Linked DNA regions of Homo sapiens. The protein of the gene in region 1 interacts with the protein of each later gene in a pairwise test. Each region holds a gene or a part of one and is shown in the gene's direction. Other genes may lie near its edges. The genes, in order: ARMC9 and NDUFAF2.

Region 1 (13,993 bases):
TCTGTAATTTCTTTTTCTTTTCCTTTTTTTGAGACGGAGTCTTTCCCTGTCGCTCAGGCTGGAGTGGAGTGGCATGATCTCGGCTCACTGCAACCTCCACCTCCTGGGTTCAAGCGATTCTCTTGCCTCAGCCTCCCTGGTAGCTGGGATTACAGGTGCAGACGCCACCACGCCCGGCTAATTTTTGTATTTTTAGTAGAGATGGGGTTCCACCATGTTGATCAGGCTGGTCTCGAACTCCTGACCTCAGGTGATCCGCCTGCCTCAGCCTCCCAAAGTGTTGGGATTACAGGTGTGAGCCACTGTGCCTGGCCAATTCTGTAATTTCTAAGAATGTTGAGTAATAGGATACCCAGCAGCACTCACATTCAATGACAGTTGATCACAGCAGATACTATTTAAACGGCTTAGGGAGGTCTACTCTAAGGAGGTGATGTTTATTAGGCACAGTGGTTAACCAGGTGAAGAGAGGGAAGAGTGTTCTAGGCGGAGAGAGTAATATGCGCAAAGGCCTTGAGGTTGGCCTCAAGGTTTCAAATTCTCAGAAACTCACTTTTCCCGTTCCAGGGCCTTTAAAATGACATCCCCTCAGCTCCGGCTTCATTTATTCATTATATGCCTTGAGTACCTTTCTTGCTTACTAGACACTCTGTTAGGTTCTGGGGATATGAAGTTGAAATACAGCTCCCTGTCTTTGTGAACAGGGTTATAAGAAGTGCCAGGTGCAGTGGCTCATGCCTGTAATCCCTGCACTTTGGGTGGGTGAATCGCTTGAGGTCAGGAGTTCAAGACCAGCCTGGCCAACCTGGTGAAACCCTGTCTCTACTAAAAATACAAAAATTAGCTGGGCGTTGGTGGCGGACGCCTGTAATCCCATATACTTGGGAGGCTGAGGCAGGAGAATCACTTGAACCTGGGAGGCAGAGGTTGCAGTGAGCCAGATTGCACCTTTGCACTCCAGCCTGGGCGGCAAAAGTGAAACTCCATCTCAAAACAACAAAATTAGCTGGGCGTCATGGCGCATGCCTATAACCCCAGCTACTTGGGAGGCTGAGGTGGGAGAATCACTTGAACCCAGGAGGTGGAGGTTGCAGTGAGCCGAGATCCCGCCACTGCACTCCAGCCTGGGCAACAGAGCTAAACTCCATCTCAGAAAAAGAAAAAAAAAAAAAAGCCTTGGTAGGGAAAGAAGGGAGGGGTTTTTCATGGAAGACTTCTTGAAAAGAGATTAAATCTGGCTTGGCTTAGAATCATGAGTCATGTTTGCCTGGGGGGGCAGAGCATACATCAACCACAGGCTTAGGATCCTGGAAGAGCTTGTTGCATGGGGGAATGGCCAGGAGTTCGCTGTTGGCAGGGTCCAGTGTGGGATTGGTGGAAGGGAGCAAGGAGAGGGATCAGGTAGGGGGAGGTGGATGGATTGGAGGCATGGTCCAGAAAAAGGCTGGAGAGGTGGGTGTCCCCCAGGAGCAGCTGCCTTTCTTCTCTCCCCTTTTGCATCTGGCAGGGCTGGTGTGGTGCATGGGGAGGTGTCCTCCCTGCTCCTCATTACTGCTTCCAGATCACTACCCACTCCTTCACAAACCCCAGCTCCTTTGAAGCACATGGCAGATGCCATACCCCTTGCCAGCCCTCCCTGAGGTAGCCACTTCCCAGGGCAAGTCTCTCCAGTTCCCTTGGAGCCTCCAGCACCCGGCTGGCTGCCTATCCCTTCATCTCTTTTACTTCACTTTTGGGGGTTTCCACATCCTGGCCCCTCCAGTTTCTTCATCCTCCTTACTTGCAGGCGTCTCTTTCCTCCATCCTCCTCATCTGCCCACTCCCGTGGTCGGGAGCTTTTTAGTACTAGTCACCTTCAAAGTCTTGCCTTCAGGCATCTGTCCCACTCTCTGCCCACTCCTTTCCATCTTTCACACTCACTGGAATGTGCCTCCTTCAGCAGGTCTCAGACCCCACTGCTTCCTCACTGCTCTGCAGCCGCCTTATGTGTGTTCCCCTCCCCCATTCTTAACCTGATTAGTTCCAGTGTCCCATCGTGGTTGTACTGTTTTCCCTTTCCTCTCTCTTCTAGAAGAACCTCTCACATTGGTTAACCTAACTCAGATAGCTGAAAGTGCCTGGAGAAGAGCTGCAAAACTGTGCAGACTGATTCCATTTTAGATTCAAGTGCAGAGATCTTAAATGGACTATAATACCAGCAACCCTGCCATGTTGCTGTAGTCGCTTTGGTTCCCACCCTCCCTTCCGTTCCCACTCTCCCTTCTCTTCGAACTGTCACCATGCTTCTTACTTGCAGCCGATGACCTTTTTTCTTTCTTTCTTTTTTTTTTTTTTTTGACAGAGTCTCACTCTGTTGCCCAGGATGGAGTGCAATGGCACGATCTCGGCTCATTGCAACCTCCACTTCCTGGGTTCAAGCGATTCTCCTGCCTCAGCTTCCAGAGTAGCTGGGATTACAGGTGCCTGCCACCACACCCGGCTAATTTTTGTATTTTTAGTAGAGATGGGGTTTTACCATGCTGGTCAGGCTGGTCTTGAACTCCCAGCATCAGGCGATCTGCCTGCCTTGGCCTCCCAAAGTGCTGGGATTACAGGCGTGAGCCACCGTGCCCAGCTGATCTTGTTTCTTGTTTCACTTTTTTTTTTTTTTTTTTTTTGAGACAGGGTCTTACTTTGTCACCTAGGCTGGAGTGCCATGGCGTGATCCCGGCTCACTACAGCCTTGACCTTCCTGGTTCAAGTGATCCTCCTGTCTCATCCTCCCCAGTAGCTGGGATTACAGGCACACACCACCACACCCAGCTAATTTTTGTATTTCTGTAGAGATGAGGTTTCACCACGTTGCCCAGGCTGGTCTCGAACTCATGAGCTCAAGTGATCTGCCTGCCTTGGTGTCCCAAAGTGCCAAGATTACAGGTGTGAGCCACTGCACCCAGCCTGTTTCACTTCTAATCACTAAATCTGTGTCTTTGCTCAGCACCCATATTCTCTGCTATCCCTCTGAATGCCGTTCCTGCTTCTCCCTTAAACTCCAGGCTCATATATCTGTAAGAATTAAAGAAAGAGGAGAGAAACACGAAGGGTGACTTGACAGTCAACAGGTTTGTTTCCTGGGTAACGGCCAAACTTCACCCTCTTACAATGGGCCTCAGTATAACAGTGGGCCTTAATAAGGACATTCTGTTCCCTTCAGGTGCACTAAGGGAAGCTAAAAGCAGACTTGGGGGGTATGCCTGCAGCTGCAGAAAGTTGTATAGGAACAGACACACAACTCTCCCTCCCAGATAAGCACAACAGAGAGACACAGAAACAGTTCAAGCCTTTGATAAACTCTCCCACCCTGAATCCTTAAAAACTCTTAGTCTGTAGGAGAGTGTGGCTCTGACCTAACTCGGTCGGAAGTCCCTCCCAGGTTTGAAATAAACCTGTTGACTGTCGAGCCACCCTTCGTGTTTCTCTCCTCTCTCCTCTTTCTTTGGTTCTTACAATACCCACTGACCATTTCGGAACCTCCACTGGAATGTCTAACAGGCAGCTCAGACTTATAGCCAAAACAGAGCTCTTGGTTTGACCTCAAAACAGTCCTTCCCCAGGTTTTCGTTGACTCAGCAAATCACATACTCTTCGGCCAGCTGCTCAGATCCCAGGGTTCTTCCTTCCCTTCTTCCCCTCATGTCCCACAACTAACTGGTCTGCAGATTGTGCCTCTTCTGCCTTTTCCATCTGGACTCACAGCGCTCATGGCCCCTCTTGCTTATCCAAATGATGCTCATGGCTGGCGTGGCCTGAGCAGTACTCATCTCCCTCTTCCCACTCCCCTCCAGTCTTCTCTGTAGAGCAGGCAACATGCATATTAAAAAATGGACATCAGCAGCCGGGCGTGGTGGCTCACCCCTGTAATCCCAGCACTTTGGGAGGCAGAGGAGGGAGGATTGAGCCCAGGAGTTCAAGACCAGCCTGAGCAATGGTGAAATCCTGTCTCTGAAAAAACCAAGGCTGGGCGTGGTGGCTCATGCCTGTAATCCCAGCACTTTGGGAGGCCGAGGCAGGTGGATCACCTGAGGTCAGGAGTTCGAGACCAGCCTGGCCAACGTGGTAAAACCCCGTCTCTACTAAAAATACAAAAATTAGCTAGGCATGGTGGCGGGTGCCTGTAATCCCAGCTACTCGGGAGGCTGAAGCAGGAGAATTGCTGGAACCCCGGAGGTGGAGGTTGCAGTGAGCCAAGATTGTGCCATTCTACTCCAGCCCAAGCAACAACAGCGAGACTCTGTCTCAAAAACAAACAAACAAAAAAAAACCTCACCAAAAACCAAACAAATGAAAAAACCAGAAAACAAAAGACTTGGGGCATAGTGGCACACTCTGTAGGCCCAGCTACTCAGGAGGCTGAGGTGGGAGGACTGCTTGAGTCCAGGAGTTTGAGGCTGCAGTGAGCTATGATCATGTCACTGCACTCTAGCCTGGGCAACAGAGGGAAACTCTGTCTCAGGAAAAAAAAAAAAAAAAAAAAAGGACATCAGTGGTGTCAGTCCCCTCCTCCATACTCTCTCTGAGCCTCCTGTTACTGTCAGCCTAATGTCCAAGCCACTTACCAGCTCTGTAAGGCCCACCTGACCTGGCCCCGGCCCCCCATTGCCTGCTGCTGTCTGCCTCACCCCTAGCTACATCCCAATACCCCAAGACTGCAGAGCTCTTCAGCCTGAGGCCTGTGCACTAACAAAGCCATCTTCCCCAGATCCAGGTGCTCAATCTTTGCTGAAATGTCACATTCCCAGTGAGGCCATCAACCACTCTATCTAAAATAACCCCATACCCGTCTCCTTCAGGTTCTGTCCCTTTCCTTGCGCTGTTTTCTTCATGTCTGGAATCAATTTCCACTCCGTCCATGTTTTTGAGCCTGTACTGTGTGCCAGGCACTGGTCTAGGCACAGGGGAACACCTGTCAGGTGCTGTTGAGAAAAATCAAGCAGTACAAAGGGCTGAGAAGTGATGGGCCGACCTCTTAGAAAGGGTGGTCAGGGCAAGACTCTCTGAGGAGGTGACAGTTAGGCAGAGACCTGAATGAGACGTATCTGAAGGAAGGGCAGTGAGCCAGAGTTCACGAGGGCAGGCGTGTGCTTTGGGTGTTCAGTGGGTGTCCACAGGAACCACACAGTGGCCAGTGTGGCTCAGGTTTACAGAACAAATGGGAGTGTGTCAGAGGCCAAGTTGTCTAGGGCTTTGGGAGTTGAGCCTAAGGAGCCTGGCCTTCATCTGGAGGGCGCTGGAACCACAGGAGGGTCCCAAGCAGGAGGGGAATGCTCACTTGTTAAAAGTGTAGAAATTGGATTGAAGTGGAGAGAAAGGAGGTGGGGAGGCAGTGGCAGAAAAATGTAAGGTTACAGACTCAGAAGAGATCTGACTGAGTGTGGTGGCTCACGCCTATAATCCCAGCATTTTGGGAGGCCAAGGCGGGAGGATTGCATTACCCAGGAGTTTGGCAGCTTAGTAAGACCCTGTCTCCCTGTCTCTACTTAAAAAAAAAAAAAAAAAAATTACCTGGGTATGGTGGCATGCACCTATAGTTCTAGCCACTGGGGAGGCTGAGGAGGGAGGATCCCTTGAACCCAGGAGTTTTAGCTTGCAGTGAGCTATGATTGCACCATTGCACTCCATCCTGGGCAACGGAGTGAGATCCCATCTCAAAAAAAAAATTCGATGAGTTCTGACACATTCTGAATTTTATAGATGAAGAAAGGCTCTGCACTTCAGTGAGTTGTCTCAGATCAGGTGCCAGTGAATGGCATGGTTAACATTAGAGCCCAGACCTTTTCATTCCTCTGGGGTTACGGGCAACTGCTTTGGGCTGAGCCTGGGGTGTGGGCCATGGGGAATGACTGCTTTGGGTACACCTTGAGGGAGGGCTAGTAGAAAGAGTAGGAAGAGTTTCTTTTGACTTTAGCCATTGTATTTCCTAGTGCCGCTGAACAAATGACCATAAACTGAGTGGTGTCAAGCAACAAAGATTTAATATCTTCTAGTTCTGGAGGTCAGAAGTCTGAAATGGCTTTCACTGAGCTGAAGTCAAGGTGTCTGCAGTGCTGGATCATTTCTGGATGCAGTGGGAGGATCTATTCCTTGCCTTATGCAGTTTTTAGAGGCTCCTTACCCTCCTTGTCTTATGCCACTTTATCCCCTTTAAAGCCTGCAGTGGCTGTTGAGTCTTTCTCACATCTCATCATGCTGGCACTGACCCTCTTGCCTCCGTCTGCCCCCCTCCCTCTGCTGTGACTGCCTTGGGCCCACCTGGGTAATCCAGGATCATCCCCCAATTTAAAGGTCAGCTGATGAGCAACCTTAATTCCATCTGCACCTTAATTCCCCCTTGCCGTGTAACCTCACGTATTCACAGGTTCTGGGGATTGGCGCATGGATGTCTTTGGGGGCCATTATTCTGCTCACCACAACCACCTTTTTGTAGTTTCATAGGTGGTTGAAATGAAAGCTGTTGTCTTGTATTTTTGCCTTCTAGAGATTTTTGCTGTGAGAATTAATTACCAGTAACAGTTCAATATGGGGGACATTCTGGCTCATGAATCTGAATTACTTGGACTAGTGAAAGAGGTAGGTATATTATACAAAGCAGAGGTCACAGAGAAACAGATCTTGAAAACTTGTGTTTTAAAATGCAACAAACTATTTAGTGCCTTGTAATGTTTCTTCTATTGTTATGTTGGAGCTATTTTTCTATTATATAATATTCCATGTATTTACATTTTGGTTTTATAACTAAACAAATCTTAAAGCCACTTAAAAAGTCCCTTGAAAGAAAATTATAAAAGCAATACACGTCCACGGTAAAAGATTCAAGCACTACAGAAGTATAAAAAGGAAATTTCCCTCCCAGACTTTTTTCTATGTATAGTAAAAATATATTCACATGCCTGTAGTTTGTTTTACAGAATGGGATGATACATTGTTCTGTAGCTTGCTTTTTATCTGCCAACAATAATATAGCATGAACATCTGCCTATGATCGGCCCTAGACATTTGAATGCCATAGAGTATTTCATTGAGTGGCTGCATCATAATTTTTTTAACTCATTGTCTGGTAATGGCCTAGGTTTCCTACGCTAAAAGCTTTGACAAGTAGGGCCCAGGCCTTAAACTTTCTGGTGCTAAAGAAATGGTTCGCGCTTGCTGCTGCTTAACTGTGTGAGTAACCACCTGCAGGTTGCGAGAGCCACGGGCCTGGAGCAGGGATGAGGCACCCACCGTGCAACTGCAGATTTGGAATTTGGTGGTGTGATGGCGAATATATTCTTTTTTAAAAAATTTACATTTAAAAATCTTTTTAGAGACAAGGTCTTGTTCTGCCGCCTAGGCTGGAGTGCAGTGGCATCATCATGGTTCACTGTAGCCTTGAACTCCTGGGCTCAAGCAATCTGCCTGCCTCAGCCTCCTGGGTAGCTGAGACTACAGACGTGCACCACCATGCTCAGCTAGGTTTTATTCTAATTTTTGTAGAGATAGGATCTCACTCTGTTGTCCAAGCTGGTCTTGAACTCTTGGCTTCAAGCAATCCTCCTGCCTCAGCCTCCCAAAGTTGTGGGATTGCAGGCATGAGCCACTGCACCCTACCTATATAACACATTTTCTTTTAAAAATTTATTTATTTGAGATGGGGTCTCGCTTTGTTGCCCAGGCTGGTCTCAAAGTCCTAGGCTCAAGCGATCCTCCTACCTCAGCCTCCCAAAGTGTTGGGATTACAGGCATGAGCCATGCCACCTGGCCTATACCATTTTTTCTTTTTTTTTTCTTTTTTTTTGAGATGGAGTCTCACTCTGTCGCCCAGGCAGGAGTACAGTGGTGCTTTCTCTGCTCACTGCAACCTCCACCTCCTGGGCTCAAGCGATTCTCCTGCCTCAGCCTCCCGAGTAGCTGGGACTACAGGCACGCGCCACTGCGCCTGGCTAATTTTTGTATTTTCAGTAGAGACGGGGTTTCACCTTGCTGGCCAGGCTGGTCTCGAATTCCTGACCTCGTGATCCACCCGCCTTGGCCTCCCAAAGTGCTGGGATTACAGGCTTGAGTCACGGCTCCTGGCCGGTAGTTCTATTTTTATTTTTTTGAGGAACCTCCATACAGTTTTCTATAATGGCCGTACCAATTTACAGTCTCACCAAGAGTGCACAAGTGTTTCCTTTTCTCCACATCCTTGCCAAGACTTTTTATCTTTCGTCTTTTTTGTAATAGCCATTCTGACAGGTGTGAGGTAATTAGGTCTCTGTGGTTTTGATTTGCATTTCTCTGATTGTTAGTGATGTTAAGCACCTTTTCATGTATCTGTTGGTCTTTTTAATGTCTTCTTTGGATAAATATCTATTCAGATCCTTTGGCTGTTTTTTAATTGGATTATTTGTTTGTTTTGCTGTTGAATTGAATTATTTATTTTTTATAGTATTTAGATTTTGCTGAATTTGAAGACACCTTGAAAACATTTTCAAAAGAATGCAAAATAAAAGGAAAACCATTGTGTAAAACAGTAGGCGGATCTTTCAGAGACTCCAAATCATTGACAATTCAGGTAACATTTTGCTTATTTTTCATCCCTGTAGATAATTCAGGATGCTCCCAACTTGTGGAAAATGCTGCTGTTGGATAGTGCTAGAATAGTTTTTGAGCACTTGCTCAGAGTTACTTTAGATGGCACAAGTGTTTATAGATGAACTAATAATGTCATTTTAAATCTCTGTACCCTCCCCAGGAAATGTGTGGCCATATAAGATCTTTCACAAACATTTCTTGGGAAGAAGGAAAAGAAGAAACCATGCAGTGTTTAGGAACTGAGACAATTGTAGCCTTCCTCCTGAGGAGTTTCAGGTTATTAATTCTAGGCACTGGGGATCCAGCAGTGAACAAACAAAATCCAGCCCCTTGCCAGCACAGCATTTGCATTCTAGCTTGGGGAGGTTGGAGGGAACAGGGAGCAAGAGTGAGACTGACAAGGCGGGTCTGTGAAAGGAAGTCTGAATAGCTCTGTGAATACCAGTGGGCTGCAGGGGCACAGAGGTTATACAGACCTCAACTCTCAGGGTTAGAAGGGACCTTAAAAATCCTTGACTAGGCATGGTGGCTGAATCCTGTAATCCCAGCACTTTGGGAGGCTGAGGCAGGAGGACCGCATAAACCCAGGAGTTCAAGACCAGCCTGTGCAACACAGTAGGACCTCGTTTCTTTTTCTTTTTTTTTGAGATGGAGTCTCTCGCTCTGTCGCCCAGGCTGGAGTGCGGTGGTACGATCTCGGCTCATCACCACCTCTGCCTCCAGGATTCAAGCGATTCTCCTGCCTCACCCTCCCTAGTAGCTAGGATTACAGGCACGTGCTACTGCGTCTGGCTAATTTTTGTATTTTTAGTAGAGACGGGGTTTCACTACATTGGCCAGGCTAGTCTTGAACTCCTGACCTCAAGTGATCCGCCCGCCTTGGCCTCCCAAAAGTGCTGAGGTTACAGATGTGAGCCACCATGCCCAGCCAGAACCTCGTTTCTATAAAAAATAAAAAATTGGCCGAGCATGGTGGCATGCACCTGTAGTCCCAGCTACTTAGGTGGCTGAGGTAGGAGGATCACTTGAGCCTGGGAAATCAAGGCTGCATTGAGCCATGATCATACTGCTGCACTCCAGCTGTAGTGACAGAGTGAGACCCTGTCTCCAAAAAAATTAAAAAGTCATTATTTTAACCATTATTTGATGTCTAAATCTCATTTGTAATATGCCAGGTAAGTAATCAGTTCACCTAGAATATTTCCATTGACTAGAGACTGTACCATTTCCTGAGACAGCATGTTTCACATTTGGATGATTTTATTATTTATTTATGTATTTGAGACGGAGTTGCGCTCTGTTGCCCAGGCTGGAGTGCAGTGGCAGGATCTTGGCTTACTGCAACCCCCGCCTCCTGGGTTCAAGCGATTCTCCTGCCTCAGCCTCCCAAGTAGCTGGGATTACAGGCACACACCATCATGCCCAGCTGGTTTTAGTATTTTTATTGGAGATAGGGTTTCACCAGGTTGGCCAGGCTGGTCTCAAACTCCTGACCTTTGGTGATCCACCCGCCTCAGCCTTCCAAAGTGCTGGGATTACAGATGTGGCCACCACACCTGGTCTATTTTATTTTTATAATTAAAAAAAATTATGTGGAGACAGGGTCTTGCTGTGTTTCCCAGGCTGGTCTCAAACTCCCAATCTCAAGTGATCTTCCTGCCTCAACCTCCCAAAGCACTGGGATTATAGGCATGAGCCACTGCACCTGGCCTTATTATTTTAACAGATTTTTAAATTTTAACATACCTACTTCCAGAAATAATTTTAGGCTTGGCTTGCAAGCCCCTTGAGTGGCTGGAGTTCAAGTGGTATTCACTGCTGGTTTTCTCCTAGTCCTTGACTCCCCAGTGGCCTGGCATGGGCGCTGTTGAGAGAGGGGCACTTTTGAAGTGGCCCGTGGAGCTCAAGGCAGGGCTGAACCCTCTGCCTGCTCCGCTTCAGGCCTCTGGCCCCTGGATGCTGAGCTGCTGCTGCTTCCTGTCAACACAGACTCTTCTGTGGATGCTACAGCAGCCAGACCTCCCTGGCACCCCCCACACCTAGAACGATATGTTCAGAACATAAAAGAATATAGTCATTAGTAGAGGTGAAAACAGGTTCTTAGAGTGAAGTGTGTTCCTCAGGAAATCAGCTTCACTCCCCAGCACCTGGCTTCCCTGGTTCTTTCTGGATGAAGAAAGACCTTTACCCTACACGTTGGAAGTATAGGTGAGCATCTCTTAATTAAAGCTACCATTTGAGAGGAATATAGCAAATCCTCAATACCTAACTAGCAGAACAGTGAGACTCTTTTGTGAAGTTCACACATGACCAGATGATGTGATGATACAGGGTAAGGCCAACAGGCCCTGTGCCTTGAAGCTTCTTTGCATATCGGTCCCTCCAGAGGTGGCTGCTGTACACTTTCCGCAACTGGTTTGCCATCGCATTTCAGCTCCAGCTGCATCTGAGAACACTCAAATGTCTCTTTAGGTCTTTTTAAAAAATTGTGATTAAAGATAACATAAAATGTATCATGTTAACTATTCTTATGTGTACAGTTCAGTAGTGTTAAATGTGTTCACATTGTTGTGAAACAGATCTCTAGAATTTTTCATCTTACAAACCTGAAACTCTGTCCCCATTTAACAACTCCGCCTTTATCCTCCCCCTAGGCCTTGGCAGCCACTATTCTACTTTCTGTCTATGAATTGGCTACTTTAGATATGTCATATAAATGGAATTATGCAGTATTCGTCTTTCTGTAATTGGCTTATTTCACTCAGCATAATGTCGTCAAAGTTCATTCATGTTGCAATGTATGACAAGATTTCCTTTCCTTTTAAAGGCTGAATAATAATCTGTGATATATATTCACAAACACATACACACACACACACACACACACCCCCACAGTTTATCTGTTCTTCTGTTGATGGACACTTGGGTTGCTTCCACCTCTTGGCTATTAAGAATAGTGCTGTTGGGGCTGGGCGTGGTGGCTCATGCCTGTAATCCCAGCACTTTGGGAGGCCGAGGTGGGCAGATCACCTGAGGTCAGGAGTTCAAGCCCAGCCTGACCAACATGGTGAAACCCCGCCTCTACTAAAAAAAAAAAAAAAATACAAAAATTAGCGGGGCATAGTGGCAGGCACCTGTAATCCCAGCTACTTGGGAGGCTGAGGCAGGAGAATCACTTGAACCTGGGAGGCAGAGGTTGCAGTGAGCCAAGATCACACCATTGCACTCCAGCCTGGGGTAAAAAAGTGAGACTTTGTCTCAAAAAAAAAAAAATAGTGCTGCAGTGAACGTGGGTGTGCAAGTATCTCTTTAAGGCCTTGCTTTCTGTTCTTTTGGATGTATACCCAGAAGTATTGCTGGATCATATGGTAGTTCTATTTTTAATTTTTTGAGGAATTGCCAAGCTGTTTTACAAAGTGGTTATACTATTTTCCATTCCCACCAGCAGTACATAAGCGTTCCAGTTTCTCTACATCCTTGCCAATGCTTGTTATTTTCTCTGTGTGTTTTTAAAATATTCACCATTTTGATGGGTTTGAAGTGATATCTTGTCATAGTTTTGATTTGTATTTCTCTGATGTCTTCAGGTCTATTTTTATATAACTTCAAAGACCTTGAAACTTTCTGATTGTCACAAGCATATCTTTTCTGCTCATCCAGTCAACAGCTGTGTCCCCCACTATGGTAGATTTCCCAAATGAAAAATGCCTGGGTTGAATGAAGAAGAGTGGGGAAAAAATTTAGAAAGAAAAATAAAAAAAATATGTAGAACTGAGGTTCAGCAAAATATGCTAATTGTTAGTGGAACTCAAAAAATAGTGAGTTTCCCCAAGCAGTTTTATGTGTATAGTTCAGTAGTGTTACGTATGTTTACATTGTTGTGAGATATAAGAAGCGTGTGTGTCTACAAGTTACTATTGATGGTGTACACATTTTCTCATCTTGTTGATTCTGCTTTGATCATGGTTTATAGAACATCACTAATATTTTGTGACTGTAAGTTATAATAGCAGATTCTTTTATGTGTGGGTATTATTTTAAGCTCAGGGACCATTTCCAGGTACAGAATGTGATTCATGAGTTAGGAAGAATGATAGATGTGATTGTAATGACATAGCAAAGGTTTGTGGTTTCAGGTCTACAAATATAGACCTTAGAACAAACTGTAGATGGGCCATTTGACTTGTGGACTCTGCCAAGCCACATTGATAAAATAACTTTTCTTTAAGCCATAACGTTTCACAAGAGTCTGCGCTCACCTCATCCACACAGTCAGAGAGCTCTTGGTCACCGCACTTCTCATGGCAAGGCCCCCTCAGGAATGGGCACTGGGTTTGCTTGGGACCTTGGCAGAGGCAAGCATGGGGCTGAGCCTGGCCCCACAGCACTGCCCCTGGGAGGATCCCTTCACCTTTGTGGCAGTCATTAACAAGCATGCAGGTCTCTGGTCAGCTTCCCCAAATTCTTCCAAGGGGTGCCTGCATTCAGCTGCTTGTGCTTTGTTTTGGCAACCCTCACCCACAGGCGCTAACACACTGTCCCTCGCCTGTGTCCGGGAGGAACAGAAGAGCCAGCCTTGAGGAGGTAGATGCTCATTGTAGGGCTTATTTGAAAAATTCTGAGTTTACTTGAAATGTAACTGGCACCTTCCAGCGTAAGGCAGTATTCAGAGACAGTTCTTGATTACATGACATAGTGAAATTTTTGTAATATTCAGATTTGAGGATTCCTTACCAATCAACATCTTTGACTTATGTGTAACCAAACACTGTTACATTATTTGTTCTCTATACATTTCCATTTTATGTTAGAAAATTTGCTTATAAACAGATAAAACAAGTAATTTTTAAAAATGACAATTATGCAGGAAAATTATCTGTAAACGTTTTTTCTTTTTTTTTTTTTTTCTGAGACAGGGTCTCATTCTGTTGCTTAGGCTGAAATCCAGTGGTGGGATCTCAGCTCAGTGCAGCCTCTACCTCCAAGGCTCAGATGGTCCTCCCACCTCAGCCTCCCGGGTAGCTGGGACTACAGGCACATGTCACCACACCCAGCTAATTTTTGTACTTTTTGTAGAGACAGGGTTTCACCATGTTGTCCAGGCTCGTCTTGAGCTCCTGGGCAAACGATCTGCCCACTTTGGCCTTCCAAAGTGCTGGGATTACAGGTGTGAGCTACCACGCCCGGCCATGTAAACTCACTTTTTTGGTTTTTTTTTTTTTGAGATGGAGTCTCGCTCTGTTGCCCAGGCTGGAGTGCAGTGGCGCAATCTCGGCTCACCCCAACCTCCGCCTCCCGGGTTCAAGCAATTCTCCTGCCTCAGCCTCCAGAGTAGCTGAGATTATAGGCATGCACCACCATGCCCGGCTAATTTTTGTATTTTTAGTGGAGACAGGGTTTCATC
Region 2 (16,518 bases), on another chromosome or scaffold:
TGTGGACATTAGATCATAGAGGACCAAGGAGACTTATTAGGAGTCCAAGCAAGAAATGCTATTGGCCATAGAGATAAAGAGAAATGCACAATTCAAGATAAATTTTGAAGGAAGAATTGATAAAATTTAGTGCTAGGTAAATGTAGGAGGTAAAGAAAAATAGGAATCATTTAAGTAAATGTATACAGTTGCGTAAGGGAAGGTGATTTAGCTGCTGCTGGCTAAAGTGCTTCTTCCCACCATGAGGACATCCCAGTAACAGCCTCCTCCCCCCCAGATCGTGCCCACTGGTGTGCATTTGATATGTCACAGAGACTACTTTGAGAGTATAGTAATTAACTTTTAGGACTTCCGGTTAGCTGGAAGGCTCCTCTCTATGTTCATGAAGTAGGGTGTTGCCTTGGAGCTTGCTTTTATCTTAGCATGTGAGGAAAGGGAGACCAGGCCCTATTGAAACAAGGCAAACCTTCTAGGGGTCAGGGAAACACTGTAGTCAGGCAGCAGGATACCTGTATGCAAAGCCATGTGTGTGGCTTGCTGAGAACTGTGCAAAGAGTAATAAGTAGTAGAAGGAAAATATGGTGGAGGCAGAAACTTGTTTCAAGTGTAGTCTAATTGTATGGCCTTAAGTTAGCCCTCTGAGCCTAAGGCATCTTTGGACATATTTAATTTAACATGTTTGTTAGACATCCACCTCCACCCAGATAGTTGGCTATATTATTCTGGAGCTTGGGGAGCAGTCAGGCTTGAAATGAATTTGAGCTTCTTCAGCATATGTAGACAATATTTAAACTTGGGATAAGAAATGATTACTTTGAGAGAGAATACAGATACTCCTTAACTTACCATGAGGTTATATCCCGATAAACCCATTGTTAAATCAAAAATACATTTAATACACCTAACTTACCAAATTCATAGCTTAGCCTAGTCGACCTTAAACCTGCTCAGGACACTTACATTAGCCTGCAGTTGGGCAAAATCATCTAGTAACACAGTACACTGTAGAGTGTGGATTGTCTACCCTTGTGATCAAAGTGATGACTGGGAGCTGCTGCTCAATGCCACCACCTAGCATGATGAGAAGGTATTGTATGGCATATCACTAGCCTGGGAAGAGATCAGAATTCAGAATTTGAAAATACAGTTTCAACTGAAGGCATGTCGCTTTTGCACTGTCATAAGTTGAATCATTGTAAGTCAGGGACCGTCTGTATAGTAAAAAAGAGGGCTAGAATTGAGTCCTTGAAGCATTTCAGTGTTCTGAAGTTTGGCCAAGAAGGAGCTAACAGTTTGATAAAAAGATATTTGGATATTTTACAGACAACTTAAATTTGGTATGTTTAAAGCAGAACTCTTTTTCTGTTTCCTACCATGGTTAATGGCATTATCTGTTGATAGCGACAGGAGGCAGCCAAATGCCTAGGCTAATAGGGGCGGGTCCCTGGTGAAACCCCACCTTCAAGCCAAAAACAGCCTGGAGGCTGAAAGACCAGGCTGCTGGTCCCAGATGAAACCTGCAACCCAGAGTGAGAACTTATGTTCCTGTTTGCCTGCCCTTTCCTGATTAATTTTTTTTGAATAATGCCTTTTAACAATTGAATGTTGCCTTTTCCAATACTCCCTACAGCCTGTCCCTTTCCCATTCTGAGCCCATAAAAGGCTCCTGACTCAGCCATATTAGGGGTACTTTCCCACTTTCGGATAGGGGGACCACCCCTACATCCCCTCTCCACTGAAAGCTGTTTCATCACTCAGGAAAACTCCCTGCCTTGTACACTCTTCGAATGTTAGCACATCCTCATTCTTCTTAGGTGCAGGACAAGAACTCAGGAACCAGTGTGTAAGCCAGACTTGGCCCAAGTGGGCCGAGTAGGTGGGCTGTCTCCTGCAGCAGGTAGCGTGGTCAAGCAAGGCCTGGGCAGGGCATCGCCAGCCAGAGTTCCTCAGCTTGCAAAGTGTCACTGTCATCACTGATTAGAAACAGGGATTGTCCTCATCTCCTTCACCTCTACATATTGGTGACTAAGACCTTTTTCCTATTGAATATCTTAACAATCTTTTTTTGTCTGTCTCAATACCATTGTCTTGGTTCCTGCCCTAATGATTTTCTTACTTGCATTTCTGCAGTGGCCTGCTATCCGATTTCTCTGTTCCAGTCTTGCACCTCTCCAATCTAATTTCTATAGTTGCCAGAGTCATCTTTTTTAAAATATGGGATAAACATATAAGTCTCCTGCTTATGGTTGCCAGATTTAGCAAACAAAAATACAGCATACCCAGTTAAATTTTAATTTCAGATGAACAAGGGATAATTTTACATGTATGTCCCATATAATTTTTAGGACATAAATACTAAATTATTTGATGTTTGTATGAAATTCAAATTTAACTGAGCATCCTGCATTTTATCTGGAAATCTTGCTCTTCCTTCAGAGCCCAAAAATGTTTCACCATCACTTTCAGGGTGAAACCTAAATATCCTAACACTGCATTACAAGATTCAGCATGTTCTAACCCCTGTATACCATATGAACCACTCAGTGTCCTGAATTTGCTTTGCTGCTTTACTCCTTCATACCTCTGATCACATGCTTACTTTTTCCTAGAATGCCCCTCTCTTCTTAGTTCTCTGGTTGATTCTGATTGATTGTTTAATACTGAAGTATCACCTTCTCTAACCCTCCAGTCCACTCTGGATAATAACTGGGACACCAGGGCTGGGTGTGGTGGCTCACGCCTGTAATCCCAGCACTTTGGGAGGCCAAGGCGGGCGGATCACCTGAGATAGGAGTTGGAGACCAGGCTGACCAACATGGAGAAACCCCCTCTCTACTAAAAATACAAAATTAGCCGGACGTGGTGGCACATGCCTGTAATCCCAGCTACTCTGAAGGCTGAGGCAGGAGAATCACTTGAACCTGGGAGGCGGAGGTTAAAGTGAGCCAAGATCACACCATTGCACTCCAGCCTGGGCAAAAACAGCGAAACTCCGTCTCAAAAAAAAAAAAATTAATTAATAATAATAATAATAATTGGGACACTAGCTTTTCTTCTGCATTCTCATAACATTCTTTGTTTTATATGATTGCAGAATTTATCATATTATAATTTAATTTTTTTAAACCTGCCTCTCTTCCTTAGATTGTGAGTTCTTTGAGCACAGGGTAAAAGTTGTGTCTTTTAACTCAATCCTTGGCACTTAGTGGGCTCTCAGTTAATATATGCATGAACCAATCAGTTAGTGAATGGGAAAGTAGGAAAGGACCCATAAGCATTAGCCACATAATTGGCCATTGGAGCTTACCCAGCTCTTCCCTATGGTACCTCCTTTGACCATCCTCTTTGTTCCTCAAAGATGCTTCATAAGAATAGGAACTAGGTTTTAATCTCTGTATCCCTAGGCCCTTAAATTGTAGGTGCTCAGTATATATTAAATGAATGAATGAATGAATGAATGAATGAAAAACACATGAATGAATAAGTATATCTTTCAGGGCCACAGCTCCTGTTGTCCCCTGCAACAAGTCCTAGAGGGTGCTGCCTCTGACCATATTTTTTATTCTCTAGGGCAGGCTCTATATAGCCTAAGTTGTAGCTTCTTTATGTCTTACTTCTTCTCATCCAACTCTTCTTCCCTCTCTCATCCTAGGCCAGAAGAATTCTTTTCCCCCGACAGCAGCTGGCACATAACAGCTCAATGAATGTTAGCAATCATTCACAGATGGAGCCTTTTCTTTCCTCCAGGGCTCTTGCCTTTCTGCCATTTCTTTCTCTCTCTCTGAGGCCAAGCCTGGAAAGCCATGGGGATCTGACATTGCTTTTTCTCCCAGGGATTATGGTCTTTCCTCTTCCCACACAAGGGAGCAAGGTTTTCTTTGTCTCCCACCAGGGTAGTTCAATTAAATAGGACTAGCATTAAGTGACTCTAATTATTTTTTATTAATGTTTAACTGCTAAATTTCTTTTTCAATTAAATAATTGTGTCTTTATGCTTAGAGGCCCTTTTTGCGTATATATGGGAGTTCATTTATTTTAGTAAAGGAAATACCACCTGAAAAACTGTTAATGACTTGAGCTCTGTGATTAGTTCATTTTAGTGACATTTTGAGATTTAATAATTAATCTGGCTCAGGTTCAAAGAAAGAAAACTTAATGCCAGAAATTCCTAGCCAGCAAAGAATATAAACAAACCATACAATTGTCCCCTCAAATAACAGGAATCATTGAGATAGCCTTCTTGCAATTAGAAATGTTTTGAAAAAATGCATGAGGAAGGTTCAAGAAAGCATGTCAAAACAACAAAACTCAGTGTACATTCTCATTATTGTAATTGATCAAAGGATGTTTGCAATAGATTTGAATTTGAATAAATTAAATGTGACATTGATTTGGCAGAGGCGTACTAGTGATTGGCAAGAACATGTAGCAGGAGCAGCTTCTGCTAAAGCATAACTCACTTGCCTCTTGTTTTATTCTAATAGATTTCTTAGCAACCCAGTACTATCATACTAACCTAAGCTCTGTCACTTATTTACTCTTTGGGTTTCTACTCCCATCCAGGCAAGATTAAATTTATTTTTGATTACTGATCTAGCAGGTGTTCTCTTGGGCCTAAATACAGAATACCTTTTGGTGATCTATGCACCTCCCTCTTTTTTCTTCTTTCTTTCGTAGATGAAAAAGGGTGATCTAATAACTTATTTCATCCTGGCAGTTCAACTTGTAGAACTAGAAAATGTAGTTTAATTAAACAACTTGGCAATAAAATTCGAGCTGAGACATCACTATAGCATTTGCTAGGCTTGAATTGTTTCTCAGCATGTTACAAAATTAACACTGTAAAAGAATATTCAACTCTGAACGTTTTGAAACAACAAATTCCCATTATAATTTTATAATTATATTGAGGATTGGGGGCTGTGTGGTATATTCTGGGAGGCTACTTTCTGGGCATGACTATCTAATAGTAAACAAATGTTACTGGTATGGGGTCCCAAAACATACTTCATGCCAAATTTCACTTATAATCTACATAAATCGTTTTGTAGTCTATGAAAAACATTTTAATTGACTCAAAGGCAATGTACTCATACTTTAAAAATTTTAATATTTATTAAAATAAAAATTATTCACTAGTATATATGGTTTAAATTATGGAAAGAAATTAGTGGAGCTGTCAAGGTCAAATTTATGTCTGGTAAGCAGTAAAAAATGTATGCATTTGGGTATATTTAGTAATTGAAATACTTTTACATCTTTATCTTATGTGTACTTTGAAAAGTATGTCTAGCTCCAATAGATATTAAAGATATATGTACATTTAGCTTTTGTCACAAATGTACCGCTAATGTATAATTTTAAATTATAACTTTTTATAAATCCGGTTTCTCATTTTTTATATGTAATATAACTTGAACTTCATAAATAAGCTATGGTTTTGTTCCCACAGAAGACTGAAAAAGAACCCAGTTACATGGGCCTAAGACTGACTCCTGAGCCTTAACTTGCTCTTGAAAATAGTGAACTTTCTAACAATGAAGCACTGTTGAATTTATTTTAAATTATATTTAGATTTTGTCTTGGCATGTGTTTTGAACTTCAGTTTGAACATAGTTATATATGATATACTTGGAATTCACAAGTACTTGAAGCTAAATGGAGACCATTTATAAATACTAAACTTTAGAGGAGCCTGGAGCCAGAACATTAAAGATGAAATGGCATATTTTTGTGTGTGTGTGTGTGTGTGTGTGTGTGTGTGTGTGTGTGTGTGTGTGTTCAACCTGCCTTTTTTCTACCTGGATTCATAACATTTTTAAAGCAAAGTTCTAATTCCCTAATAAAGGGCTGAGCATTAACTCTATTCCATTTCCATGTCTATCAATATAAAAATTATTCAAATACTTTTGAAGTCTATTATTATGGAATTTTATGCTTACCATGAATATTACACCATCAGCATCATATATATGTACATATAAGGTATTACTGAAACACTCCTTCATAGAAGAATTCTCAGTTGACTAGGTTTGAGCCTTTTAAGGAGAAAAATTGGGCTAAGGGATTGAAATCTTGAATGATGGTTTGAAAACAGTTATTCATTTTTATTTATACACACATTACACACAACATAAAAAATACTAGTGACATTTTACATATCTTAAATTAATAAAAATGGGTAATTTATAATTTGCATAATTTGTATTTACCTTTTCTTGTTAAGTATATGTATAATAACAGATAATATTCCTAAAAAATATTTTGTATATATACTTAGATCTGCATCTAAATATTTGATTCCATTTAATAGTATAGACTGAGGAATGTTCACTCCCACACCTCTGGTCTGAGTGTGGCTCCAGAGAAGCAGAATGGTGGATACCTGAGGTTGAAAACTCTTTGGGTAACCTTTGAACCTATTCAGATATCTCTCAGCCCTTCCCTTTCCCCAATACTCATCAAGTAATCTAAACTTATCTTCCAGTCATGATAACTTCATCAGAGAGCACTGGTCATCAGCTCTTAGCCTTCCCTCAGATATTAGAGTGCATTTCCAAAGCCCAGGTTTAAATAGCTTTAGTTTTCTTTCTCTCTCCCAACACATCATTGCAGAGACCTCTAGTATTTTTCTACCATTTGTTTTACCTCCTCTTTATAATTCAAATATCCACGCATGTTATCTAATAACTTCCATAGCAGTAAGTGTATATTAAAGCTGAATTCCTTGCCTTTATGGAAAGTTAATGTATAGTAGGATTTTGCATGAGGGACTGTATGATTGGAGCAGAATAACTACTTATTATATCATGCCTAATATCTGTGAGTGAGCTATAAGTCAGCATGTTAGTAGATTCCATATTTAAGCTTTGTTTTTTAAAAAAACAAACTTTAAATCTCTTTTGTCATTACTACACATAGCAAGTTGCAGCATTGAATGCAACAATAATACAGCTACCAAAAGGGCTCTTAACCAGGGCTCTTAGCAAAGTAACAGCATTGGAAAGGACTTGAGCCACAACCTTTTGGGGGCTTAAGTTCACATCACTGAGTAAATGAATAGTGCACTATAAATAACCATTAACTACATTACAAAAACAATGATGAGCTTGTTAAAGGCATTTAGATCTTTTCGCTTTTTCTCTTTTTTAATCTAATCCTTCACAAACAATGATAATTTATATTAAATTTTGACCAGAAAAATATATAAATTCAAACATTAAATACATGCAAGTTGAGCAGCTCAAATTCGAAATCCAGATTGCTCCAAAATCCAAAACTTTTTGAGCACTATTAAGGCATTCAAAGGATTTGGGGATACTTAACTGGTAAGTAAAAAGCAAATATTCCAAGATCCAAAAAATTCCAAAATCCCAAACACTTCTGTTCCTAAGCATTTCAGATAAGGGATACTTACCCTATAACAACATAAACAACTCAAGCCTAAACTAATTTGCTCCAGCTGAACACCCCTGAAATGAGAGAGATGCTCACAGAACATTGGTCATTCATAACATATACATTTAAGGAAAGTTTTGACACACCGATTTTGATACAGCTCATGCCTTTTTTTAATTTGTCAGTATGGTTTCTTTCTCTTCTTCCCTGAGATTGGTGGAGAATGATATTCTTCAATATTTCACTCCAGGAGACTCTTTAAATGACCCTTTTAGAAGGGGTTGACCTCATGCATGACTCTCAATTGTCAACTCCATGAGGTTCTGCTTCAGGTGGACAAGAAGGCCATTGTTGATACACTGCTCTATATCCCTAGTCAGGGGAGCCAAGACAGTGGTATAAAACATGGAAGCTTTGGTGACTAGAGACTTTTTGTTGATGGGAATAAGGAGGTAATAAGGCAGAGTGTTGCTAATTTGAGGGCTGCACGTGGTAACAACAGCCCTTTTGTCTCAGGCTGTGCGTCTCCTGAACCAGGTTCACAAAGCTTGAGAAGTTTGCTTGGCAGTATAGTCATCACTGGCCTCAAAATCCGTATTGGTATTTTCAATGGACAGTGTAACAATGCTTCTCATGTGCTCAGGGAACTTAGATTTGGTGGACGTAGAGTTTTAGGGTATCCAGCACCTGGCAGAGTGTCCAAACCTCTGGTGTTTTTCCTCTGCAATGAAGTCCTTCATTCTGATCATTTCCAGTGCTATTTATTCTACAAGGTTTCCATCTTGTATCATTTTCCTTCAGTTGAAGTATGTCCTTTAATTTTTCTTATAGTAGATATTTGTGACAAATTCAGCTTTTGTCTGAAAATGTTCTTATAATACCTTCATTTTTAAGATGTTTTCACTGGATATAGGATTCTAAGTTGTTTCTGATGAGAACTCAGTGTTATTTCTTATCTTTGTCTTTTGTATAAGTGTCTTTTTTCCTGTGTCTAGTTTTAAGATTTTATCATTAGTATTTAGCAATTTGATTTGGATGTGCCTTGGTTTTATGATTATCCTGCTTGGGGTTGTTGAGCTTCTTAGATCTGTGAATTTATATTTAGTCATTATTTTCTCTTCTCCTTCCATGACCACATGTATATCAGACTGCATAGTATTGTCCAATAGCTCACTGAGGCTCTGTTCATTTTTTAGCCCTTTTTTAAAACTCTCTCTTGCTTCAGTTTATGTATTTTCCATTGTCTTATATTCAGATTCACTGTTCTTCTACAAAGAAGCACTCAATTTTTTTATTTCATAGGTTGTTTTTCACCTTGAAGTTATATTTGGTTCTTTATAACAGTTCCCATTTCTTTCCTCATGTTGATTTTTTTTCTTTAATTCTTTAGACATTTTTATAGTAATTGTGATAAAGTCCTTGTCTGTTGATTTCATCATTTCTATCATGTGTAGGTCTACTTCTGTTGACTGGTTTTTAGTCATCCTTTCGTCTTCACCTCTTGATTACATGATGAACATTGAAATATTATGTTTAGTATCTCAGTTGTGTTGTCTTCCTTTAAAAAATACTGAGTTTTGTTCTGGAGGGCCATTAATTGACATGTGAACCAGCCCAAACTTTTGGAAGCTTTTTTTTTTGAGACAGGGTCTCACTCTGTTGCCCAGGCTGGAGTGCAGTGGTGTGATCTTGGCTCACTGCAGCTTTGACCTCCTGGGCTCAAGTGATCCTCCCACTTCAGCCTCCCGAGTAGCTGGGACCACAGCTGCATGCCACCAGGCCTGGCTAATTTTTGTATTTTTTTTTCTTTCTTTTTTTTTTTTTTTTTGTAGCAACAGGGTTTCACCATGTTGTCCAGGCTGGTCATGAACTCCTGGACTCAAGAAATCCACCCACCTCAGCCTCCCAACGTGCTAGGATTACAGGCGTGAGCCACCACGTACGGCTAGAATCTTACTTTTAAGTTTTGTTAGAGTAGATCTAGAGCAGTGCAGTCCAATCCAAATTTTTGCAATGATGGAAATGTTTTATAACTGTACTTTCCAATATAGTGGCCATTAGTCATATTTGGCTATGAAATACTTGAAATGTGGCTAGTATAATTCAGTAACTGAATTTTTTATTTAATTTAAATGGTATGTGGCTAGTGCCTACTGTATTGTACAGCATAGGTCTCCAATAAGCTGTACTCTCGTGCCAGTTTAGTCCTACACCTAAGGAGTGACCCTTCCGGGATCTTTACAATGTCTCAGGTGTTCAACGAGCTCTCCCTGGCTGGTTAGAACTTGACTTTTTCCTAGTCCAGTGCAAGCTCCAGCAATTTTCAGCCTATAGTTCCCCAGTATTCTTTAGTGAGAAGTTGTCCTTCCTGCTTTATGGAGTTTCACCGCGCACATGGACAGCTTAATATTCAGCTGAACACTCAAGTGGGTTACTATGCAGATTTCTAAAACTTACTCTGTGTATTCTGGTACTCCGCCTAACATATCCCAGCATATTCCAGCTTTCTCAGGCTCCCTAAACAACCATCTCTATCTCTCCATAAACCACCATCCTCTGGTTGGGTTCCCCCACCCTGTGTAGCAACCAGTAATGTGTCTCCAGCCAGAAAGCTGGGATGATATAGGGTTTATCTAATTTGTTACTCATTGATGCCCTTCAGGGATCACACTACTGTGCTGCCTATTGTCCAGTATCTGAAAAATGTATTTTTGTCCAGTTTTCTAGTGGTGCCATGGCAGGAGGACTAGCCTGGTACCAGTTATTCCATCTTTTGTCTGAAACTAGTAGATTACCTCTTACTAACATCTCTACCCATTTCAGAGAGAGATGTGTACAAGTTTGCTATGTTTATTTTTTAATAGAATGAAATCACTATTTTAAGATATATTTGTACCTTCTGTTGTACTATCACTGCCCAGTAGCCAGTTCTTTCCCAACCTTTACAACAGCCCATTGAAGAAGACAACATTATCTCCATTTCACACAACATGAAAGTGAGACACAGGGAAGTTAAATAATATTCATAGAGTCACACAGCTGGTAAATGGTAAAACTGGGATTTGTATTCAGTGGTCTGGCTTCAGAGCCCAAATTCTATGCCACTATTGAGAAACATTCAGTGAATAACAATGTGAAGAGTATACATATGAGTAATTTGAGGTATAAATATTTATACTTACATAGTCACATATAAACAAGATTCAATTTTTAAATCAATAATGTTTGGCTTACATTAGAATATGGAAAAATCTGTAATCTGCATAAACTTTTCAATCTTTAAGGGAACTCTAGAGGTTACTTAAGGGGAACAAAAGGAAGATACTTCCATTTGGTATTGTTGGTTTATTCATTTATTTTTTGAGACAGAGTCTTGCTCTGTCACCCAGGCTGGAGTGCAGTGGCGTGATCTCAGCTCACTGCAACCTCCACCTCCCAGGTTCAAGCGATTCTCATGCCTCAGCCTCCAGAGTAGCTGGGATTACAGGAGTACACCACCACACCTGGCTAATTTGTGTATTTTTAGTAGAGACAGGGTTTTGCCATGTTGGCCAGGCTGGTATCAAACTCCTGACCTCAAGTGATCTGCCCGCTTTGACCTCCCAGAGCGCTGGGATTACAGTCGTGAGCCACCACACTGGCCCATTTGGCATTGTTTTATAAAAGCTTACTCACCTTGTAATACATAACTATCTTAGGAAACATAATACTGTTATGAGTATAAGCCCCATTTTCAGATAAACTGAGACTAAAAAAGTTAAGTAGCTTTCTTGGTGTCACACGGCTAGCAAATGGTAGATTTGGGATTGGAACCCTGTCTGAGTCAAAGAATTACCCATGTGGATTGTCACCACAGTGTTATTTTTTTTAATGAAGAAGTGAAATATTGGAAGCAACAGTAGAGGTAGTTGTTAAGTAAATCATGGTACAATACTAGTGATAAAATAACATTCAGCCATCTTTTTTTTAAATGTTAAAGAAAAATATTTATTGGCAACAAGATAAATAAGTAAAATGATGAATATTTGTTTTTAAAATACAAACATTTATGTGAAGAAAGATGCCCGTTCCTGCTTTATCCTTACACAAACACTGAAACATACTGTTATTTGATAAACGTATGGAGATATAGGGTGATATTGTTCCAAGGAATTGGAAGGAAAAATACTTGCTTTTTGGTAGTTTGTATTTGCAAATAGACTTTCTTAAAAGTCCTTAAGGTCTACAATTCCTATCCTGTTTTCTCCACCTAACTACTTTCTTATCAATTCCAAATATTTTCATTGTTGTTGTTTGGGGGTTTTTTTGTTTTGTTTTATTTGAGATGGAGTCTTGCTCTGTCACCTAGGTTGGAGTGCCGTGGTACAATCTCAGCTCACTGCAACCTCCACCTCCCAGGTTCAAGTGATTCTCCTGCCTCTCAGCCTCCCGAGTAGCTGGGACTACAGGCATGTGCCACAATGCACAGCTAATTTTTGTATTTTTAGTAGAGACAGGGTTTTCCCATGTTGGCCAGGCTGGTGTTGAACTCTTGGCCTCAAGTGATCTGCCCGCCTCGGCCTCCCAAAGTGCTAGGATTACAGGCATGAGCCACAGAACCTGGCCCTTCAATTCCAAATATTTACAAGACCGTATTTCCTTTCATAAATGATTTATGTTCTGTTTAATTTTGCCTGGTACCAGTTATGTTTTTGGTACCAGTTTTGTTTTTTCAGAAAAACAAAAGGAAATTCTTTTTTAGGAAAAACTATAGTCTCCATATTTTTTAACTCTGAAATCTTTAACCATCTTCATATATAAAAATAATTAATATATTCAGATTGGCTTTTCTTTTGCCTCAATAGCTATTATAAGAAAGTCTTAGAAGAGTAATGTTGAATAAAGAGAAATTATGTGAAGGCAGGAGAAACAAGAACAGATCTTTGCCCTCCATTTTCTTTTCATCAAAAAGCATATGCATGTACCAACTGTAAGACTGCAACTATAGAGGTGACATAAATAAAGTAGGCAGGGGCACAGCTTCAGGTGACATGACTGATCTATTATACAAAATCCAAGCAAGCTCCATACCAATTTCTGAGTATCCTCTTGCTGCTTGAGGTCGGTTACTAGTGGAAGTTTAACCTGGTCCTGAACTTTTCATTCCGCTCCAAAGAACGAACTTCCATTAAGACACAGGGACTTGAATTTTTGTCTACTTCCACTATTTCCAGTATGATATTGAGGAATTTCCTTTGTGATACATCATCACCTTATATAAGAATTCTAGAGGGTATAGGAAGAAGAAAACCTGATTTCTCTACTCTCACCCTCACTTGGAGCAACCATACAGAACTCGCTTACTGTGGTGATTAAACTACTCATGGGGAATTGCTATGTGTTGTGAAAATTACAAGAATATTTATAAATATTGTTCTTTCCTGCACATATTTGCTTTGAGGGAGAAGTTTCATTAGATGGGCCCTTCTTCACATCTAAAACTAAGTCTTAACACTAAAACCACAAAAACTTTTCCCCCTTTAAGTACAAACTATTATTTTAAATGTTACTTTAATATCAGAGCTTACCTTTTTAAAGGACTATACAATCAATATTACTTGAAATTCACTTGAGAAACAGAAAGGTGATATCATACATTTAGATATCCAGATGTTGCCCTTTAAGTGACATTTTTTGAAAGTTTTGAAATTTTAAAAATACTTGACAGAACTTTTTTTTTTTTGGTCAGTGTTGTCAGATATTAGTTACATTAACATTCTAATTTCACATTACAAATAACATATTCTTAAAAATTAGATAATACAGGTAAGCAAAAAGAACATTAAAAAATTTCACACATTTAGAAATGCATTGTAAAATCAGAAGGAATGGACCAGGCGTGGTGGCTCATGCCTGTAATCCCAGCACTTTGGGAGGCTGAGGCGGGCAGATCACCTGAGGTCAGGAGTTCGAGACCAGCCTGACCAACATGGAGAAACCCCGTTTCTACTAAAAATACAAAATTAGCTGGGTGTGGTGGCACATGCCTGTAATCCCAGCTACTCGGGAGGCTGAGGCAGGAGAATCACTTGAACCTGGAAGGTGGAGATTGCGGTGAGCCGAGGTTGCGGTAAGCCGAGATCACACCATTGTACTCCAGCCTGGGCAACAAGAGCAAAACTCCGTCTCAAAAAAACAAAAAAAAACCAAAACAAACAACAACAACAACAAAACACAGAAGGAATGAATAAAGACCAAAGATGTAATTACTGTATTGCATTTATTTTTAAGATACGTATCTTTTCAAATATTAATATCTCTGAAACTATGTGTGGAATTTGCCTTTCTTAATGCTATAGTGATGCTTCTTAAATGTGATGGTCTTTTATTCAAGGAAATACAGTAACAAAGGATTGATTGTAATTTTGGGTATAGATCCTCCTAGATAGAATTCTGAGGAACAGAACTGCATTGTACAATCTGTTTGCACAGATTTGAGAAAGTATTTCCAATAGCAAAGAACCTCTCTGCAACAGTGTCTAGGGCATGCCAAACCCTGATTCCATTCCTATCCTCCTCCTTTCCTGCCATACCACTCCAGAAGAGAAAGGGAAATATTAATAGATGAGGCTTGGTTCTGGTACTACAGAGGGTGACGTTAGCATTCACACATCTGAATGGCAAAGAAAAAAAAAAAAGGGTAGTCAGAGCACTTCTTTCTCACCAGTGGAAAAGTACAGTCACTGAGTTTTAGGGCAGAAATCAGTGTTAAGCTTAGGAAATCTTTCATAGAGTGTCTCAGGCTTCTGTGTAATATTTCACATTTGTTTGTTTCATTTTTTGAGTAGTAAATATTTCTACTGTGGGGTGCTTCATGTCTATTATAGCATAAAATCAGGACAGAACTGTTTATGTAACATTAGTATGTAATCATACAGCTTTTTCAAACTTATATACATATCTGTATATTATTTAAATGCAAAGTATGTATGTATATATTTATATGTATATAATGTATTTTATTTTTATTGGCTATTTTTATAAAAACTTTTTTTAACTAGAAATTTAATAATTTCTTCCATTTATATATACATGCAGGAAATACTAAAGAATGAAAAACACAGAGAAGAAATCAAAATAAAAAGCCAAGATTTTTATGAAAAAGAAAAACTCCTTAGTAAAGAGACCAGTGAGGAACTCCTGCCTCCACCAGTTCAAACTCAAATTAAAGGCCATGCCTCTGCTCCATACTTTGGAAAGGAAGAACCCTCAGTGGCTCCCAGCAGCACTGGTAAAACCTTTCAGCCAGGATCCTGGATGCCACGAGATGGCAAGAGCCACAATCAATGAATGCATTATGGTCAAATCTTTTCATGTATATGGATGTGACTATTTTAACAAATAAAAGAAGTGAAAAGTTATTTACCTTGTATTTTCTGAATGTACAATAGTTTCCTATTCTATTAATCTTGAGTTCATTTTTAGTATGCACAAGAAATGTGAGATTATGTACTGTAGAAACCTAACTTCTTTTAGACTTAAATCCTTCATTTGACTTAGTCATTGTTATTTATGAATTTGCTTAGATTTGTTTTTCCCTCTTTGGATTACTCCCTTGAGAAGGATCCTGTAGCTGTGAATGCTTAGTACATTTTGGATCTTTATGATCATTTGGGAACCACTCATAGATAGAACTGGGTACAAATAATGAGGGTAAATATTTTTCCCTCTTTGGATTACTCCCTTGAGAAGGATCCTGTAGCTGTGAATGCTTAGTACATTTTGGATCTCTATGATCATTTGGGAACCACTCATAGATAGAACTGGGTACAAATAATGAGGGTAAAATAGTGAGCTCTCCCAACTGATCAAATATAGGAGAAAAAAGAATGAAGATTCTTATTTCTGGAGAGGTGACCTGTAAGATTCTAAAAGACTAATCAAAAATGTGAACTTGGATAAAACATGTAGAGGCAAAGAAAACTTAGTTGATAAGTGAAAAAAACCACTAAGACCTTGATGAGAGGATGGGACAAAAGCTAGCTTATGGTGGGACTCTGGTTGGAATTTGAAGAGAGGAATTAGGACCAATAGAAGTATACAATCCATAACAAAGTCTGAAAGGACAGTAGAGAAAGAAATAATGCAATAACTGGAGTTCCATGAGAACGAAAATTACTTTGAAAAAATAGAAAATTGGGGAAAGCTCTCAAAAAGCAGAAATTAATTTCACTAGAAGACAGAAGACAATGTACATGTTAAAACATTACATACAAAAGTACATTAAAGGGCCACACATTTTCTGGAGTGTACAACCAAGTTTTTGTTGTTATTCTAAAAGTTTTTCTCACAATGTTTGGCATACAATAGATGCTCAATATTTGCTGAACGAATGACCCAAATGTGTGTGTGTGTGTGTGTGTGTGTGTGTGTGTGTGTGTGATTACAAATGCTTTTCTTTTGTATTTTTTTATTATTATACTTTAAGTTCTAGGGTACATGTGCACAACATGCAGGTTTGTTACATAGGTATACATGTGCCATGTTGGTTTGCTGCACCCATCAACTCATCATTTACATTAGGTATTTCTCCTAATGCTATCCCTCCTCTAGACCCCCACCCCGCAACAGGCCCCAGTGTGTGATGTTGCCCTCCCTGTGTCCATGTGTTCTCATTGTTCAGCTCCCACTAATCAGAGAGAACACGTGTTGTTTGGTTTTCTGTCTTTGTGATATTTTGCTGAGACTGATGGTTTCCAGCTTCATCCACGTCCCTGCAAAGGACATGAACTCATCCTGTTTTATGGCTGCATAGTATTCCATGGTGTATATGTGCCACATTTTCTTGATCCAGTCTATCATTGATGGACATTTGGGTTGGTTCCAAGTCTTTGTTATTGTGAATAGTGCTGCAATAAACATACGTGTCCATGTGTCTTTATAGTAGCATGATTTATAATCCTTGGGTATATACCCAGTAATGGGATTGCTGAGTCAAATGGTATTTCTAGTTCTAGATCCTTGAGGAATCGTCATACTGTCTTCCACAATGGTTGAACTAATTTACACTCCCACCAACGGTGTAAAACTGTTCTATTTCTCCACATCCTCTCCAGTATCTGTTGTTTCCTGACTTTTTAA

What was found.
Region 2: the proteins of ARMC9 (region 1) and NDUFAF2 interact in binary tests that used the Homo sapiens proteins (3 or more experiments, as listed by UniProt).

Annotation. Positions count from the first base shown.
Region 1 is NC_000002.12:231,199,684-231,213,676, forward strand, and holds part of ARMC9 (lisH domain-containing protein ARMC9), read left to right. Parts: intron 1-6,514; 5' UTR 6,515-6,555; coding exon 6,556-6,606; intron 6,607-8,443; coding exon 8,444-8,569; intron 8,570-13,993. UniProt on the Homo sapiens protein: Involved in ciliogenesis. It is required for appropriate acetylation and polyglutamylation of ciliary microtubules, and regulation of cilium length. Acts as a positive regulator of hedgehog (Hh)signaling.
Region 2 is NC_000005.10:61,138,229-61,154,746, forward strand, and holds the end of NDUFAF2 (NADH dehydrogenase [ubiquinone] 1 alpha subcomplex assembly factor 2), read left to right. Parts: intron 1-14,475; coding exon 14,476-14,727; 3' UTR 14,728-14,798; downstream 14,799-16,518. UniProt on the Homo sapiens protein: Acts as a molecular chaperone for mitochondrial complex I assembly. Complex I functions in the transfer of electrons from NADH to the respiratory chain. The immediate electron acceptor for the enzyme is believed to be ubiquinone.